2 separate regions of the Homo sapiens genome follow, and region 1 is linked to region 2. The links come from fine-mapping of genetic effects on gene expression. A gene starts in region 2. The other region holds a variant in brackets. All regions are shown on one strand. Distances are between the middles of the regions.

The links.
Region 1: its variant is fine-mapped to the expression of ALKBH3 in cerebellar hemisphere (GTEx, PIP above 0.99).

Annotation. Positions count from the first base shown.
Region 1 is chr11:44,774,014-44,779,391 of GRCh38, forward strand. All of the region lies in intron 2 of TSPAN18 (tetraspanin 18), which reads left to right. Among named protein-coding and RNA genes, the nearest start is that of TSPAN18-AS1, 40 kb to the left of the region's middle. RefSeq lists enhancers at 125-899, 2,864-3,365, 3,366-3,865. The variant G/T (reference allele first, on the strand shown) is at 2,269.
Region 2 is chr11:43,877,957-43,883,334 of GRCh38, forward strand. It overlaps ALKBH3 (alkB homolog 3, alpha-ketoglutarate dependent dioxygenase), which reads left to right and starts at 2,875. Exons shown (of 10, transcript NM_139178.4): 1 at 2,875-3,223; 2 at 4,627-4,775; 3 at 5,129-5,232. The coding sequence starts at 4,697. LOC105376644 (a long non-coding RNA gene) reads right to left here and starts at 2,781. Exons shown (of 3, transcript XR_001748200.2): 1 at 2,726-2,781; 2 at 27-120. RefSeq lists an enhancer at 2,661-2,860.

The sequences.
Region 1 (5,378 bases), 900 kb after region 2:
CTTCCCTTTCCCTTTCAGCAGTGTAGCCCATGGAGGCAGCTGTTCTAATTAAAAATCTCATAAATACCAGGAGATAAGGATCCAGGGGTTTTGTTTTTTATTTCTGCCGAGACTCCCCAGAGAGTCTCTTCAGTAGGAAAGGTCCCTTTGGAGCTGAGATTTTTCTCCTGGACTTCAAAGACAGGGCTTCTTAGGAACAGAACATCTGTTTAAACTGAACTTGAACCAAGAGGCAGGCAGGCATGTCCCACGGGAGAAGGAGGGGGCAGAGCCCAGGGGTGTGGTATCTGCTTTCTGTCCCTGGGGGAAGCTCCTCAGACAGGCTCATTCCTGCATCTCACAGTGTGTCCCCATGCTGGGCAGCTTCTCTTAGTAAATGCAGAGGAAGTGATGGCAGGTGGCCCACAGGCCTGGGGCCAGGCTTTGGGCTGACTGCTGTCCAGATAGCATCCAGGCTCCTGACCTCAAAACCTCTCTATTCAGGAGAGGTAGCAAGGAGACCTGGGGTGACAGAGTTGGCTCCTTCTGCCTGGAGGTCCCTGTGGTCCTCAGAAGTCACCTTGCAATTGGGGACCTCCCAGCTCTTGGCTTTTGCATGGACAGAGCCTCCTTCATCCTCCCTTCTTCCCTCCTTATTTCCCTCCCTTTCTTCTTTTTTTCTTTCCTCCATTCACTAGGCATCCACTGGGGTTCAGAGATGAAAAACTCCCACTCCCTGAGTTCGAAGGACTCACCACCTGATAGAACAACCAGGTTGATCTCAAAAGATAAGAAAAGTTGAGCACTTTGGTTGTGTGTGTGTGGCTGTTCTTGTTAAGACAATAAAACAATTCAGAGCTTGGAAAATGAAGGGAAAAGAAATCATTCACTTCCTCTCTTAGGACCAGAGCCTCCTTCGTTTCCTGCTTTTGTTCACACTCAGGCATGTGTTCAATAGTTGACACCAGAAAGTCCGTTCAGTTGGGCTTCCTGCTTTTTTTCCCCATCTCTCCTGGCCTTACAGTTTGTGAGATTCCTTCCTGGGCATCACAGGGCTGGAGGGCCCCTACTGTTGGACACTCAGCTGTGTCTAGTGTCTGCTGTCACCTGCATACCTCCTGGGAGGGGTCGCCAGGTACAGCAAATAAAATTAAAGGATGCCCAGCTAAATCTGGACTTCCTATAGACAATGACTCAATTTTTAGCATAAATCTGCCCCAAGCAATATTTGTTCCATGTACTATTTAGGAAGAATCACTGAAAGATTATTTGTTGTTTATCTGAAATTCACACTTCACTGGGCATCCTGTATTTTATCTGGGAACCCCGTACCTGGAGTATCTTTTTGCACGTGTGTAGTCAATGCTGCTTTACTTAATAATAGGGAGAACTATCTGGCTAATATGTTCCTCTCCCCATTTGTTGGGAACACTCTTCCTAACTTGAATCGCTCCTGTTCCTGCCCACACTTCTGGACTGCTCTGCAGCTTAGCGTACTTGGAGGTCACCGAATCCCTATAGGTCCTCTCCAGGCACGTTTCATTGCCAGCCTCCTTCTGGGAGCCTCCGGTGACTGCAAAGGTTTGGTTTGCTCCCTCTAGTGGCGGGGGTGGGAGGTGTACATTTGCACTCCTCTTGGGCCTCTGGGGCTGCTTTCTCCAGCGTCCGCCAGCATCTTTGGCAGGGATGGAAACAAGGATTGTGTTCTTGCCACGCTGGAGGGAGCAAGGGCTTGAGGATGTTGCTCCAGGCTGCTAACCTATAGAGGTCGATGACATCTTTCTCTCCATCAATGAATTTATTTTTCATTCCAAGGCAGCTTTCAGGGTGATAAAAATATAAAGCTAAGTGGCAGACGATTTTTTTATAAAAGTGATTGGAGGCTGGGAAGACAGGGTGTTGCCTTGTGGTTAAATGGATTTTCTGTTTAACTGAGGGTTAAGTAGAAAACTCGTTTTGATTCAACCTCTGTTGTTGCCAATCTTTCTAAAATGTATTAGCTGCTCCCTGGTTTTCCTAAGTGCACCATAATGACCATAATTGAATCTCTCTGCTGGCAGAGGATCCTGTGGGGCGTCTGGGCACACTGTTGTAAATGTCAGTCTTCACCGAGTGGCCCAGTTATTGGGCTTTACAGCCTGCAGTGCAGGCTGGTGTGCTCTGCAGTGGCCTTCACATTCGCTGTCTTCTCATTCTATCTGCCCAGCCACCCTGGGCCGGGACTCAGGAAAGGAACTAGTAAGACCACTGTATAGATGTAGAAACTGAGGTCCACTTGGGGAAAGATTG[G/T]CCCGAGTCACATCTGGCTGGTGGAGGGGCTGGGACTGAAGCCAGCAGAGACAGCTGTGGTATTGGCCCTGATTTAAATCCTGGTTCTCACTTGCTGGCTGGGAGACCATTAAGCTTCACGAGCCTTGGTTTCTTTATCTGTGAATTGGGCACGATAACCTTTCCCTACAGAGCTACTGCTGGGGTTAAGGGTGAGGATGTGGGTGGGCTGCAGACCACAGCCGTCATATATTTAAAGGGAAAATAGCACCTCTCCTGAAGAAGAAATCAACATACCAGTGCTGGGACCCTGTGTCCAGCTTCTTTCTGCTCTGCCGTCCTTCTTCTGAGTGTTGGTGGTTTTACAGTCAGAACTTGCAGCTGGAATGTCTGGGTTTGAGCCCTGTCTCTGCCCCCGACTCTCCGTGTGACTACAGTCTGGGCCTCAGTTCCCCGTCTATAAAGTGGGGATAATGATCGAAACCTGCCTCCTAGGGCTGCCATGAGGATTCCAGGGAAGGTAGCTGAGGAAGTGCTGGGTCAGGGCTGGCCATTGTCATCCTAGGACCTGGTTGAGTGTGTCTAGTTTCACCATGCTTCTCTAGATTTGGCTTATATTCTGAGTGTTTTAAAGGGATTGGGTTTGGGACCCAAGCTCCCTTTTGGTGCCCCAGGAGCCTGCATGGGCAGCCTGGGGAGGAGAAAGATACCCCCTCTCACAAGCTGGCTTCCTGCACTGTCTGGCACTTTACCCCTCTCTGGGTGCTTCCCCAGGCCTGGTTCTAAAGAAAGATGTTAAGAGAGACCTGAGGGTAGCTTAGGAGCGGACCTAGATGGGAGACTTCTGCCCTGCCATGGCCCCTGAAGTAGGGTACCCTGCCTGGGGGATGCTGGCCCTCAAATAGCTTCCCTATTTGGGAACTTTTGTGCTCCCCCATATGTCATACATTTCTAGCATCTCAAGAGGTGTTTGTTTTTTTCCATATCAAGGGATCCATGGAGTGAAGAGACCTATGTGTGACCTCTGAACCCTTTATGGGGGATTGGGTTGGGGGTGGGGAGGACACCCTGCCAAGGTGAGGCCACCTCATCTGGCCTCTGGGCTGCTGGCTCAGCCACCTCCTGGGTCCTGCAAGCAACTCTGCTTCAGCTCCCGGTCACCAGCACCTACTTATGCCAAGCTGCTGCCTTGTTCTCCAGCTCACCCACTTCCCAGGACCCCTCCGGAATTCTGTGGGGATGGGGAGGTTGCAGCTAAGTGAATAGTCACCCTATTATTTTAGGAGAGGAACAACAGCCTGTGTGCAAAGCCCCTGGGTAGGGCTGGTTTATTTATGCATTTGTCTTTAATGGGAAGGCTGAGAGAAATTGCATGGTTTGTGAATATTTACAGGCAAATTACTACAGGGAGGAAATGAATTCATTCTCTCTCCTCTCCCACTGTTAATAGATCACACTGTGGTTCCCTGAAGCCTGCCTCCCACCTCCCCCCCTTTTCTTTCTTGCAACTCCTTGTAGTCTTTATGCCAGCTCCAGGAGGGTGTCCGGGTAGACGTGCCAATTTAATTTACCATGCAGTTATTGAGCGCTAACTGTATGCCAAGCCCTGGTTCAGGGACTAGGGATACCCAGGTAGGCACCACATGTGTGGGTTCTGTCTGCGGGGCTCTGGGGCAAGCTGGCTCAGGAGAGAAGGTGCCTCTTAAAGGATTTTTCCCCCCAACAGAAAGGATACCCTAGGGGGTAGAGCACAGGAGAACCCTTGGAGAGGTTGAGCAGATGGGAATTATGCTCCAGGTGGGGGGTGGGGCAGTTAGTCTTCTGGTGTGGTTAGAGCACCCATGGGAGGAAGAAGGAGGTAGAACTAGAAATGGGGGCTGGGCTGGGTTCTTTCTAGTTCTGAGGTGGGGAAGGAAGGTGGGGAGAGGGGAGAGATTGCCCAGGATGGTGCAACTTGTGTAGCTAGCCAGAAGGAGCACACCTCTTGTTTAAGGGCCTGAGTTGGCAAATAGTAGCCTCTTATGGGGAGAGGGGAGTTTCTCCCTCATCTCCCCTTTCCTTGGGGCCAAGAGGTGTAAATGGGAGGTCTCTGGTCTGTCACTCCTCCCTCTCTTTTTCCCCGCAGACATCACCAATCAATTGCAGCACTTTTGTTGGTTCCAGAATCCTCTGGAAAACAAGCTAGGCAGGCACTATCTATTGATTCCAGCTGGCCTTCTAGAAGGAAGGTGAAGGGCCTTCTAGTAGGTGGGTGGCTGGACCTTAGGGTAGCCCCATCAATGAATTTGCAATGGAGGAAATCTCTTTGTGTCTCAGTTTCTCTACCTGTAAAATGGGGAGAGGGATGGCTCACTTGGTCTCTGAGGACTTTCCCAGTGCTAGCCAGCCAGCATTTGTTAATACCCGCATTTATTTAGTCTTTCCATTAAGCGTGTGTGCACTTACTCTGGCTGGTGCCAGGTGGGGCCCTGGGATACACAGGTGATCCTGGCAGCTGAGACCTGGCCTCCTGAAGCTGACAGTCCTGGCAGTCTGTGGTTCTTAGAACCTCAGGTGTTGAGGTCAGCTGACACCAAGGGCAGGGCTGTCTTGATTCTTCCAGATAGATGGCACCCAGTGCAGCCAGCTGTCCAGTGGCTGGAGGTCCTGGGGATCTCTGGGGACATTAGTCTTGGTCTCTGGGCCCACACACCGGGCATCCTCCCAGGATGGTTAGATGCCATTAGGCTCGGTCTATGCAGTAAGAGCCACAGCCAGGACCCAGGTCCTGCTGAGCCAAGTGAGGAGCTGTGGCCACTGGGGATCCTGAAAGAGCCCCAGGCCACATGTATCTGTCCTGGGAGCCTGCCCCAGGATTGACCCCCACAGCCCTTTTTGGCAAGGGAGAGGCCTCCATTGTGCTCCGTTTCCTTCTAGGTGCGCATGTTCCTCCTCAACCATTCCTCCCCACCCACTCCATGGCTGTGTTCTCAGTTTACCCCAGGTCATGTCAAGTGAGATCAGCCCTTTACCCTCGGGATTCTGAAATAGGGCCAGGGAAAGGCCAGGTATTTCTGAACTATCTAGGCACTCCCTGGGGCCAGATGCTTTCAGATGCCAATAAAAACACTGTGTCCTTTTTGTGTTCAGTG
Region 2 (5,378 bases):
CTTCTGTATTGGATCAATGTCCTTACCTTTAATAATTAAGTGCTGCCACTTGGCCTCATCATCTCCAGTAAAACCAGGGGACCCAACTCAATGGTGGCATCTTCCATGATCACACCTGGCCTGCAAAGGAGAGCAACCACAGAGCTTTCCAAGGATGCAAGTGCTCCCTTGTCTAAAGTATTTCTCAATGCTTTAGAAAAAGGAGCATCTTCTGGATCTTGTTGTAGGATATAGTTTTTGTGTTTGTGTCTATTGCACGTGGGTCAGGGTCACATTTGATAAATTCAGTCCAACATTTCTACCCTTCTCAGTCTTTGGGTTCCCGCCTCTACATCGTGCCTTGGCATCTCAGTAGGATTAACCATAGACTACTGTTGAGTTAAATCTTCAATAAATCCACCAAATAAGCTGTTAGAGTCATTTCCAGTTGCATGAGTCAACACAATGTCTGTAAATGCACTCTAGTAAATGCCTCCATATAATTGGCCTGATATAGTACTATATACTGCCCTCCTTAGTTTAAAACAGTTAGAATCCACTTCCACACATTCCATACATTAGCAAAGTACGTGTAATTAGTATAGTTCTTTCAGCGTGCAAGCTGTTTTATCCTAGATCATAGTGTGTAGCAGCCTACCTGGAGCATTAATGAGGTTTGAACCTAGTTAGGGTCTAGTGGCAATGAGGCAGAAGAAGGGGAAGTAAATTCTGCTGGGTCTTGTAGAGAATGAGCTTCCCTTTTGAAGTCATCTGCCCCAGCTGAGGGCTTAGCAGTGTCTTCAAGCAAAGAATGACTAGTCTCCTCAGACTTAGGAGGACAAGCTACTTCCACTGCCAAGGAAGGCTCAGGGTGCCATGGGTGTTCAAGACTGTCAGTTATCTGGGTCTAAGCAGAGTGCTTATTTCAAATTTTGGGATTCCATTCCTTCCCAATTGATGCCTTAACTTTCAGAAGAGAAACTAACCTGGTAATTCAGCCCACAGGGAGTAGTCAAACACTGTGGGCCACTGTGCACTAAAGAGCCAGCTGAGAGGAGCACACTGGAACCAGAAAAAAGAGCCCCTTCCTCCTCTAAAGTTCCTCCAGTACCCTCCACTGATGAAGCTCACTGTCCATTGAACCAAAAGGCAAGGGAGAAACCTTCCAATATTGCAAACAGGGTAGTGAAGGGTGGGTTTGGAATGGAGACTCAATAGGTTGATAATTGGCAACACACTTCGCCTTCATTCCTTCTCCCATGGTCTCTACCACCACCTCCTGATAAAAACTCAAACACTTCAAATAGAAATAAGAAAGTCAAGACCCTAATGAGGATGCCAAGACCATTAAGAACATCTAATACTATATACTCGCATCGTCTAGGGTAACCAACCATCTCAGTTTGCCCAGGACTGTCCTGGCTTTAGCACTTAAAGTCCTGTGTCTTGGGAAACTCCTCAGGCCCATACAAACCAGAACAATTTGTCATCCTACATATGTCCTAGAGGTTTTCAAAATTTTTGTGCACCAGAATCACTTGGGTGCTTGTTAAAAACGCAGGTGATTCTGTTAAACAAAAAAAAAGCAGTAATTTCAGATGCAAGTAAATCATGGATTGATCTTTGAGAAATACACTACGTAGAGGCTGAAGAGGTGTCAATCACTACTTTTAGGAACTCCTCAATCCAGACTTCTTTGTTCCTGTTCCAAAACTATAATCATTGAAAAGAAAGAAATAACATATTTTAGAAGATACAGCCAAAGTTCCTGAGCCAGAAGCAGACATTGACAAATTAGTTGATGGGGGAAAAAAACTGTAGTGTGGCCTTAGCATTTTCTCTCCTTTCAGGTCTAGGATAAATCATTTTTTTCCTTCAGTGTCACAAAGTATAACAAATAATAATGAGTGCTGTGAAAATGGATTTGATAGTAGCAACAATATAGGTACACATTGATGAGGTGTACCTATAATGAGCTTCCTGAAGGTAAACACTCATATCAGGCTTATTTTAAAGATTTCCACAGTGACTATACTTTGGCGGATCTTAGAGAATGACTTGCATAAAACAGTCAATTCAGTGCTACTTTTGCTATTTTCATACTGTAAAGTACATGGTTTAACATGACCATTTTAAAGATGTTTCTCATGAGCTCAAATGGGGTGAGCTCTTTTTCATTTTTTGAGTTTTTGTTGTGTTCCAGGCATTGTGCTATATTCTTTAAATGCATTATCTCACTTAATCCTCCCAAAAAGAGCGATACCCATTTTAAAAAGAGGCAGAGTACTTGCCCTAGATTATACAACTAGTAAGTGGTGGTGTCTGGGCCAAAATGTAGGTCTGTTCACTCAAGCAAATTTGCTTAGCACTGGAGAGAGCCAAGGTGAATTAAGGCGTGGTCCTACGCCCTGCTGTAAATGCTGTGTTCGGAGGTGTGCACAGGCTGCAATAGGAACACAAAGGAGGCTCATTTCAGGCTCTCCGTGGTTTTTAGGATAAAATGCAAATCCTTTTGCCTAACACATTATAACCAGGTCCCCCAAACTCCTCTCCCTTTATCTAGTCCCACAGGGACCCGGTCACTCTTTCTGCCACAAAGATGCCGATGCTTGGACATCTCCAGTTTCGAGGAACTCACGTAGGAGACACGCCTTCACTTCCACCTTTGCCAAACCCCGACCCCTTCACACCGCTCCCCTGCACTCTCAATCCCTGTCCGCTGCAACACATATCCCCTCATCAGCACCTTCGGTGATTAGGCCCTCCAGGCGCGGGGGATGTGGGACTACCCGGACTGAGGACTGCGCACCGGAAGTAGTGGCGGCGCTGCGTAACGTCGAGAGGAAGTGCCTGATGCCGCGGCCTGTGATTGGGAGTTGCTGGAGTCGGTGCTTCACTCTTAAGGTTCCGATCACAGACTGCGGAGTGGGTCAGGGGCTGCGAGGGCTGCCCCAAGTCCTACCGGGTTTGCACGGGCGCGCCCGGCTCCGCCCGCAAGTGCGCCTTCCTGACTTACTGCTGGGTGCGCGGGGCTGGGGGTGCGAGTACCACCCCTGAAGTCTCTTCCTGGGCGACCTCCGGGGCCTCATTCTAGGCCTCCTTAAAGAGAAGGATCTAAATTAGGAAAAGGAAGTGCCCTTATCCACGACCAAGCTCTTCCACCTGCGGAGCTCGCTTAGTCTGCACCTCAACCGTGCGGAAAGTGACTGCCCTGTTTACTGAGGAAAAACTGGGGCTCAGAAAGGTGAAGTCATTTGCCATGGGCCATGCAGCTGGGAAGTGACAGATCTGGATTCAAAGCGAGTTCTGGCTGGCGCCAGAGTCCTTGTATTTTACAGCACTGGTTCTCAAGCTTTATGTGCATTAAGAATTCCTGGGTTGAGGGTGGCGTTAGTTAACAAATTCTGGGACTCTACAAATTGAGTAGATCTGGGATGGGGCTCTGGAATCTATTTTCAACAATTGTTCCCTGGCAAATAACATATGGCTCCCCAGTGAATGGAGCAAGAAGGTGAGCAAGTCGTATCCTCTGCGGGGACTGTAGGTAATTGTGTTACGCTTTTAGGGCCTCAATTGAGAGAACATGTCAAACGGGAGCTCCTGGGATTGGAGAATTGGTATTTGATTGTCATTAACTCTTCTGGGCAGATGGCAGCCTCTGCGTCTCTCCACCTATTAAATGAAATGAATTACATGCTTATCATCTGGGGGAACTTGTTAAACACACAGATTCCTGGGCCTGGCTCAGCTCTACTGAATCAGAAGAGGTGGGAGATGGGACCTGGGAATCTATAGTCTAAGCAAGCTATTAATATAAAACGAGCTTTTACCTTTGAGAACTTGAGGTGTGAAGCTTTCTTAGGTAGAAGCATAAAGAAATAGATTACAGATGTGGAACATGTGGCTTGAATTTCCTTGTTGTTTTGGTAGCTGTACGTGCTTCTGCATTTGCTGTAGGCTAAGCTTTTACTGGTACAACTGTCAAATTAGTATTATTAGCCATTATGAGGTGGATTTATCCGTTAGCTGGAGACAGGAGTTTAATATAAGTTGAATGTTAATCTGTCTGTTGTTGATTTCCTGAGTGGCTTTGGGTGCATCATTGAACTTTACCGTCCACATACATACCTGCATTGTGTCAAATCTTACACTGCTTGTTATAAAGACAAATACCTGTATCCATCCTAAATCAGATTTTCTGAAGGTGGGCCATAGGTATTTTGAACAAACTTCCAGGGAAGTTTGATGCAGCCAGTGATAATGGAATATATGCTTGGAAACAGTCTTAGCCGATTTCTCAATGTCCATGTAGGTGAAAATGGGAATAGTACAGTTTCCTTATATTCTACTCTTGGGGACTATTAAGAGGAATGTGGTTTATAATAGGTCCTAATTTTAGAATTTCTTAAAATGCACTTTCTTGTGAAAGAAACAAAAGTACTATGGTAAGATTACAAAAGGTGAATGCTAAAGCCAGCAGCCCCAAATGACTAGGCTTCTTGAATGAAATGTTGTGATGACATAAACTGATTTTACATGGAAGCTCTATTGCCATTGAGAGTCTTCTGCCTGAAATTAATTATGCCTTAGGAGTAATTGTTCACAATCCTAACTAAAAGCACTGTTTTGTTTTGTTTTAATAAACAGATACCATGGAGTAGTTTGAAACAGGAACAAAATCTTCTGAAAGCTCGGAGCAGAAGCCTTTTTGGTCAACATGGAGGAAAAAAGACGGCGAGCCCGAGTTCAGGGAGCCTGGGCTGCCCCTGTTAAAAGCCAGGCCATTGCTCAGCCAGGCAAGAATCTGTAGGGATTTTGTGTGTGTGTGGATATGGACAACTCTCATTCTCTTTTATTTATATCCTTTTGGTTTATAATGGACTTCCATTTCAATTGACGTCAAGGAATTGTTTAAAATGTGGCTGATATTTTGTCCGATTTTGTTGATGGTGAGCTAAGGGTGGGTCTTTAATGTTCCTCATATTTAGTCCACACCCTCAAACCTTTCAGTATCTTCTGTTGACTTTACCAGTTAGTTTCTACATGTCATAGAGATCATCTCCAAGTGGGCTTTATTGGCCCTTGCTCAGTAGAAGGTGCTGAGAACAGACTTTCCCCTGGTTTGAGGCTGTCCCCTCTCTTGCTTCAGCTACCACTGCTAAGAGCCATCTCCACCAGAAGCCTGGCCAGACCTGGAAGAACAAAGAGCATCATCTCTCTGACAGAGAGTTTGTGTTCAAAGAACCTCAGCAGGTAAATTCATGGTTTTTTCTTCAATAGTGATAAAAATTTGCTTAGAAAAGTGATATTCACACAGTAGACACTCAAATAAATAATGACTGAATAAATTCACTAATAGCAGAGCAGAAGAACTATAATAATAATGAAATGAGAAATAT